2 linked regions of the Homo sapiens genome follow. The protein of the gene in region 1 interacts with the protein of each later gene in a pairwise test. Each region holds a gene or a part of one and is shown in the gene's direction. Other genes may lie near its edges.

What was found.
Region 2: the proteins of FKBP15 (region 1) and MCF2L interact in a two-hybrid assay, tested with the Homo sapiens proteins (one large-scale study listed by IntAct).

The regions. Positions count from the first base shown.
Region 1 is NC_000009.12:113,165,752-113,169,559, reverse strand, and holds part of FKBP15 (FK506-binding protein 15), read left to right. Parts: coding exon 1-336; intron 337-1,003; coding exon 1,004-1,100; intron 1,101-3,404; coding exon 3,405-3,482; 3' UTR 3,483-3,808. UniProt on the Homo sapiens protein: May be involved in the cytoskeletal organization of neuronal growth cones. Seems to be inactive as a PPIase. Involved in the transport of early endosomes at the level of transition between microfilament-based and microtubule-based movement.
Region 2 is NC_000013.11:112,967,818-112,972,225, forward strand, and holds the start of MCF2L (guanine nucleotide exchange factor DBS), read left to right. Parts: upstream 1-1,396; 5' UTR 1,397-1,562; coding exon 1,563-1,641; exon of another isoform or gene 1,642-1,699; coding exon of another isoform or gene 1,700-1,724; intron 1,725-1,742; exon of another isoform or gene 1,743-2,383; intron 2,384-4,408. UniProt on the Homo sapiens protein: Guanine nucleotide exchange factor that catalyzes guanine nucleotide exchange on RHOA and CDC42, and thereby contributes to the regulation of RHOA and CDC42 signaling pathways. Seems to lack activity with RAC1.

The DNA.
Region 1 (3,808 bases):
CCCTGTATCCATGGACTCTGAGTGTGAGGAGTCACTTGCTGCCAGCCCAATGGCAGCTAAGCCCGACAACCCATCAGGAAAGGTCTGTGTCAGGGAAGTAGCACCAGATGGCCCACTACAAGAAAGCTCCACAAGACTGTCCCTGACTTCAGACCCCGAGGAGGGGGACCCACTGGCCTTAGGGCCTGAAAGCCCAGGAGAGCCTCAGCCTCCACAGCTCAAGAAAGATGATGTCACTAGCTCCACCGGTCCCCACAAGGAGCTGTCAAGCACAGAGGCAGGTTCCACAGTTGCAGGAGCAGCCCTCAGACCCAGCCATCATTCCCAGCGTTCCAGGTATGTTCCTCTGAGCACTGCTTCAGGGACAGGGTAGTTATCTGTGGTGAGTGTCTCTGTTTTTTCCAGGGCTGGCAACTCATCCCTCAGAGACTAATTTACTCATGTCTTCATTCATTAGTTGATGTATTAATTCAACAACACCTACCATGTACAAGGCTCTGTGGCGGGCCCTACAGTAGTGTGGCGGGCCCTGTGGTAGTGTGGCGGGCCCTGCGGTAGTGTGGCGGGCACTGTGGTAGTGTGGTGGGCCCTGTGATAGTGTGGTAGGCAAGGCAGGTTTGGTTCTTGAGTTTAAGGAGTGACAGTCAAGTGGAGAAAACAAATACATACTTACATATCATAAAGTATGATAAGTCCTTTTAAAAAAGAAACAGGGTGCTATTCTAAAGGAGTTGTTCCACTTTAGATAGGGTGGCTAGGGAAGGATTCTGAGAAGGTCACATTGAAAAGATGACTCTGGCTGTAGGTTCTGGAGGGGGCCAACCGCACTAGGAGGCCACTGTAGGGTGTGGGAAGAGATGGTGGCAGCGGAGGTGGGAGGAATTCCTGAGCAGTCACCAACGCTGTTGAATTCTTACCCAAGGGCCGGTGACCCTTGTAGGTGGTGGGTACTGTGACCTGGAGCAGGAACAATAACATTTTCTATGACTTGATTTTCCTTCAGTCTCTCTGGGGATGAAGAGGATGAACTGTTTAAAGGGGCAACTCTGAAAGCTCTGAGGCCCAAAGCACAGCCTGAGGAGGAGGATGAAGACGAGGTGGTAAGGAAATCCCAGGCACTGTCAAGTCCTCACACACCCACCTGGGGGCTCTTCCCTACTGGCTCTGAGAAGAGAAATGGAGCCTGTTGGTGGCCCACTCCCTGGACTCTGTGTGCAGGGCCCTGTGGGAGCAGGCTTGGGGCTGGGCTGGGAGGGCGCAGCTCTGTAAGCAGAGTAGGGGACGGTCACATACCACTTTACTTTTGAGAAAGAATCATAGTCTCTGTCCATGCAGGAATTAGTCCCCTCAGAGGAAGAAAGCTGAGCTGCTTAGCCCCACATTGGAATGCTGAAGCCTTAGTTTTCCCCAAATCTGCTAGGATATTATTTATATTTTAGAATTGGAAAGGACTTTGAAGATCATCTTGCCTGGCATCCTTATTCATAGATAAAAAACCTGAGGCTCAAAATGATGATTTACCCAAAGCCACAGAGTGAGTTAATGGCAAAGCTAGGACTAATCCCCAGGCTCCTGTAAAGACCTCCTGTTCCTGAGCATTTTCCACTTACTCAGCCTGCTTTCCTGCTGCCTTGTTTTGTCATCACAATATCCCTGGGCACAAAATGGGTTCAGTATTAATAGCATAGCTTCACAGAACAAGAGTGAAGGCCAGGAGAGGAGGGCACTGATAGGGACTGAATTAGAACCCCGGTTCTCGCCTCTGCTGCTCCCCGCTGTGCTAGGTTACAACCGTTCTGGCTGTCCCTAGGCCATTTTGACTGCTCTGAAATGCATATGGAGAACACAGGTGGGCTTCAGGCTCAGTCCATCTAAAGGACAGAAATATGAGGGTGAATGGGGCAAATTTTGTCCCCTCATGTATCAGCCAGAGTGGATTTTGCCTTTTGCCAAAACCTTGAGCAGAGAGCTGTGATGGATCTATGCTCCAGCTTGCATGTATCGGAGCCCTTCCCTCTTGCCTGTGTTCCTTTGGGGAATGTACCAGTTCCTTCCATGAGTCTTTCTTCTCAAGAGTTAAATTTTCATTTGAGAATCCAGAATAGCAATTCTGCCCTTAAAAAAAGGAAAAAAGGGGGAAAAACCAAATTGAGTATATTCTAAGTGACTGCCCTAAATATAGTTGGAAGCTTTTAATTAGTGAGCATATTATTGGTATTAGTACCAATACTGTCCAGTTAACATGTAGTTCTTGGGTACTCTGAAAACGACTTCACAGATGTTGTCATTTAATCTACTAATCCAATGAGGTAGGTACTTTTATCCCATTTTATATATCAGAGGGCTGAGGCTCAGGAAGATTAAATAATTTAACTAAGCTTATATAGCTAGTAAATGTAGAGCCAGAACTTTAGTCAGGACAAAACAGAAGCTGTGAGCCACACTTGAAAATCCTATACTGTCAGAGTTAGAGATCACGTCATTGATGTCCAGAGAGAAGTACGAGGTCTGGCTAATTGGTAGTGACGTGGGATTAGCCCAGAGACTTGTATACACATCACGCTGCCTTCCCTTTTGCCTGGCCCTGTGAAGATGGATTCTGGTTGGCAGTTGCTCACCAGAGCAGAGAATGCCTTAGTAGAGACTATTCAGTTCGTGCCTGTCTGTAGCATCAATCCCTGCTAGCCGGGTAGGTCCTGTTCCCTTGCCAAGCCAGAGGAGAAAGGCCAGGAGCTCAAGCTGTGAAAAGAGAGGGTCTCTCATGGCCCATCAGTCCCTTTCACCCCCACTACCTTAGCTGGAAGGAGCGAGGGTGGTGCCAGTCAGGCTAGAGGTGTGGGAGGCTGTGGCCCCGTGTTCTTCACCTCTTAGGATTCTCCAGTTGGCCAAGCCTCCAAATTCAACTCTTTCAAATGATGGGATCACACCCAGAGCCAGTCAGGCCACCTTAGGCCACGACGACAGTATTTTTCCATATGTGATTGTCTTCTTCCCAACCTCCCTTCTTCCCACTTCCTCTCGCTCTCTCAGGGCTGCTTTGCTTCTGTTTCTTCCTACTGCTCCAGTGTTTCCTCTTTGACCCTTCTTTCTCCACACAAAATGTGTAAGTTACTGCATGAGAGGAAAATCTGTCAAATCAGTACATGTGCTTCATAAATAAATGATGAGATTAGCCAAACAAAGTTCATCTTTTGTCTCTGTTGAAAGACTGCCTCCCTTCTCTGCCTGCTGGTCTCAGCTTTATCTGGAAGCCTAGGTTTGCTGGCCTCAGAGTTGGCCCTGTCAGTACAACCTCCTTTCTGACCCAGAGCTGGGAACAGAAGTTGGATTGCTTCCACTCACAGGTGGAAAGTCCAGTGGTGCAGGCACAAGTGAGGACTGACTGCTCTTTCCTGTTTTATCAGAGCATGAAGGGACGCCCGCCCCCAACGCCCCTTTTTGGAGATGATGATGATGACGATGACATTGACTGGCTGGGATGAAGACCCAGGAAACTGGTGCAAAGGTTTCTCTGCAACCCTTCCCTAAGCATGATTTTGCACAGCCAACCCTGGGTCTAGGCGAACCACAGGGTGAGGTCAAGGTGAGCATTCTGGGAACAATATTTGGGCTCAGAGGGTGGGTTGGCCACCTTCTGAGCCCCACCCCCGCCAGACCTGGTGAAGAGGATCATAACCCTGTCTTCAAGAACACTGGGATTTCAGCAGCAAGTTGGAAGAAGGACTGGTAGGTTCCCCTCCAAGCCAGTCACCTGTAAGAGTCCTGTCCTCTGCCAGACTTTTTAATCTCTTCATTAACTCTCAGACTG
Region 2 (4,408 bases), on another chromosome or scaffold:
TTGTTGCCGGATGCTGGAATGGTGCACGCATGCCCTGTTGGACTCTGGAATGCTGGTGCATTGTTGCCAAATGCCGGAATGGTACACGGATGCTCTGTTGGACGCTGGAATGCTGGTGCATTGTTGCCGGATGCTGGAATGGTGCACGCATGCTCTGTTGGACGCTGGAATGCTGGCGCATGTGCACATGTTATTGGCATGAGCTGTAGTTCAAACCTCAGCCATATGATGCTTGAATTCCCAAACCATTCGTGGAAATGTGTACTTCTTCCTGCTGGAATTCTCTCTCTCTCTCTCTCTCTTTTAACTGATTGGGGAGTGAGGTGGGGGGGGGGGTCTTGCTACATTGCCCAGGCTCAAACTTCTGGGCTCAAATGATCCTCCTGCTTCTGCCTCAGCTTCTGCCTCGGCCTCCGGAGTAGCTGGGACTACAGGCCTGAAATACTGTTTCTTTAAGGAAGGGCATGTTACCTATAATACCAAACCACAAAAGGATAGCTGCGGTTTTGGGCGAGGAGAGCTCAGAGAGTTTCTTGCATATGGCCCTGTGATGGCGGCCATGGCCCTGCATAGACACGAGCTGGAATCTGCAGGTGGCAGCCAGGACGCTGCGTGTGTCGAGTGCACAGTGTGGCTTGGTGCCAACCATGGCGAGGGTGGAGAGCCCCGTGCCTGCAGCGCGCGCTTCCCTCACTGGGTCCTGCGTCCTTGGGCAGGCGATGCCCCTGCGGGGAGGGGCTGGTCCATCCCCGGCCAGCCACGGACCCACGCATGGACCCAGCGACCCACGGACCTGCTTACCTGGGCGCGGCGCGGGTGGCATGCGGCCACACGGAAGGGGCGCGCTGGGCTGCTGCGGCCTCTGCAGCTTCTACACCTGCCACGGGGCGGCCGGAGGTAAAGGGAGGCGGCGGCCAGGCGCGGCCCCGCGGAGGCAGCTGCACTCGCTCGGTCCACTCGCGGCTTCGCGGCTGCCCGCAAACCAGGAGGGCGTGGAGACCCGGAACCGGGGGGAAGGGCGGGGGCACTTGTGCGGCACCCGCGGGGCTCCCAGGGGACCTCGGCGGTGACACGAATTTCTAGGTGACCTTGGCGGTGACACGAATTTCTAGGTGACCTGTGTGATACACTAGGTGACCTAGTGACACAGGTGACACTTCCAGGTGACCGCGGCGGTGACCCGCGGGGCTCCCAGGTGACCTCGTTGGTGAGCCCCGGGGCTCCCCGACGACCGCGGCGGTGACACGCGGGGCTCCCAGGTGACCCCGGCGGTGCACTCACAGGACTCCCAGGTGACCCGCGGTGGTGACACACCGGGGCGGGCGCGCGCCGCTTCCGCTTCCGCCGAGCCGCCCCCCGCCCCCCGCGGCGCAGCGCGCGCCCCCCTCCCGGTGGCGCGGAACCAATCCTGGGCAGGGAGGCGGCGGCTGGAGGCTGAAAGCGCTGCCGTGGCCCCCTCCCCGCCTCCGCCGCGCCCCCTCCGCACTCGCACGGCCCCACCCGCAGGCGCCCCCCGTGCGGAGGAAGCGGATCTGCCAGGATCATTTTTGTTGTGTCGGAGGATGAGGTTTTGGCTGAGGACTGAAGAGATGGCCTTGGAAGAAATGGTGCAGAGATTAAATGCGGTTTCCAAGCACACGGGTAGGAGGAGCTGCTGGCCGTCAGTGATCTGTGCTTAAGCTTGACATCATGGGCTGAAATGTGGGGAAATGCGTCTGATTTTTGTAAGCCGCCCTCGTGTTCCTTTCTAGCCGTGGTAGCTGTGACATGGGGGGCACTGGTTGGCAGCTGGTGTGTTTTCAGAGGCTGTCGGCGATCGTATGCTGCCCGGGATAGTCAAAATGACTGCACGTTGGTGACACTGGCTCTCTCAGGGTTGCTGGGTCTGCATGCGGAGCCATTTGTGTGTCTGAAGTCTGCCCATCAACCTGCCTGTCCGCAGCCCTCGCAATGGAGAATGCATTGCGAATGGAGAATGATCTGAGCCAAGGGCTTTCAGAGCTTGGGGTTTCAGAGCCAGGGGTAGGGATGGTGAAGCTACCTGGAAGCTCGTTTTGAGGATGAAAAAACCTGGACTAATCAGGTGGTTCTTTTCTTCATTAAATGCAATTTAAACCTAAGACAGATGTTTGAGACGGTATGGGTAAAGAGTGGACTGGACGTTCATTTTCAGTATTAATCGAAATATTACTTCAAATAAGCTTTGAAGAGTAGTTCAGATCGATTCTTTTAGGTGTAAGCAGAGACTGGGCTGACAGCTTGCATCTGGCCGTGGCTTTCAGGCGGTCGCATCTGAGTTCTCAGGCTGTGTTATGCAGAAGGGAGAGGCATCCTTAACTCGTTTTCCTTGAAATGAAGAGGAAATAATGATATATCATTAAAAGTAAGTTGCCAAGTGTTTTGCCTGATGTTGCCATATGTTATGTCATATATGCCATTACTAGTTGTCTAACTAGTACTTGCCTGGGAGATTAAAATGTCAGTTGCTTGGTTTGGGTGTGGTTCTCTTTCTCTGCCCACCCCGATGGATTCTGAGAGTGAACCAGTGATTAAATCAGCATAAGCACCATCGTATGGGATGGTCTAATCAAGATGTTTTTAATGGGGGCTTTTATGATCAAAGCTGCTGGGTTTATTGTATGTGGGTCGAAAGAAAACAAAACCATTTTCATGCCGTCTGCTCCCTGATTCTTAGAGAATCAGCTCTTTTTCTGAAGCTTGAGTGGAGCTTTTCCGTGCAGGGTTTGCAGGGTTTGAGTATGGTGAAGGGCTGCGTGGATGCCAGGTTCACAGGGAGGCTTCCGATCGGCTGTGGGGGTGGAGGAGAAAGCCCCCCTTGCTCTGCATGCCTCTGCGTGCCGTTCGGTGTCAGAGTCACAGAGTGGGAACCGCTCCAGAGGCTGATGTCATTCCCCAGGTTTTTAGGGATTGGGGTTTCTTCATGAGCTCCAAGAGACATGTGCGCATTTTTAATTGGAAAAAGGCTATCTCAGAAGAGCAGCAGTGACACTGTCTGCTCACTGAATGTCGTGCGAGCCGGGCGCTCGGTGTGGGCCATCGTCTCATCTGGAACAGGCAGTGAGATGTGCGTCCTCCCACACATCTGCATTACCGATAATTGCATGCTTCACCAGGACTTTCAAGTCCAGCTTACCAGATATCCTCGGTTATGAGCACCCTGTAGCGTTTAGTTAGGGGAGGTGACCCTGCATCATACTCCACTTACCACCCATTAACACTGGCCTCTTCCTTCAGCACAAACCCATTTTCTGCTCACGCTGTGTGAGGTACTGCTCAGCGGAGGCAAGTTATTAGGTTGAAGGCTGTAAAACCATCATGAGGGGGTTTATGATGCAGTATTGACATGATGCTACCACAGAGTGTACGGGTATGTGGTGCACATTCTCTGGTAGGGGTGAAGGTCAAGGTAAACCTGATCCCCACCTCGGGTTTAAATTCCAAGCACTTCCTCAGGAGAGTTCCCCACCTGCAGCCAAACACTCTTCAGCGGGAGGTCATGGAGCTGCTTCTCCTTCTGGGGTCATGCTAGGATCCGTGCCAGGTAAAAGCTGATGGCAACAGGACACTGATGTGGCGGCTGGTGTAGGTCCTCAGGGCAGTGGCGGGGCTAGGTCACAGCTGAGGGATTGCGTACAGCGGCTGGCCTTAGAGCAGCTGCCTCATTCAGCTGTGCAGAGCTTCACCCTCTGTAGATTCACCCCCAACCCACAGGCATTTTATCTTTGCTGCTGTCCAGGACATGCTGCTGTGTTTTAATTTCAGATTTATGCATTTCTTCTGTCACCTAGAACCTTCATTAGCTAGGCTAATCTGCATGTAAAGGAGGATAATGTGTGCTGTCCATATGGTCTGTGAATCTGTAGCCTTTGACCTTGAGAATTGACATTTTATATACTTTTCTGAACCTGATCTTCAGTAACAAGGCCAGGGGCACTTTCCAGTGGCAACTTCCCCCTGGCCCCCCTTCTATGTGATAGGGCTCATTTTCGTCTGTTTTGGTTTTCTCTTTGGAATTTTAGTCATTGGTGAAAAGGTAGAAGACATTCGAGGGAGCAATGCTATGGATCTAGTTGATTTAAGCATTCGATGAAACAGAACAGTGGTCCTCCAACTACAGCATGTACATGCGTCACCTTGGGGGCTTGTTAAAGCACAGGCTGCTGGGCCCACCCTCAGAGTTTCTGATTCAGGAAGTCTGGGGTAGGGTCTGATAATTGACATTTCTTAAGTTCTTGATGAAGTTCTTCAGGAATCAAACTTGGGGAACTACTGTGGTAGAAGAATCTTTAAATCTAGCCCCACCTTTTCCATTAGTTGACCTAATACTAACTCTTGTCATAGACAGATGATGATAGATGGATAATGCATGGATAAATGAGTGGATGGA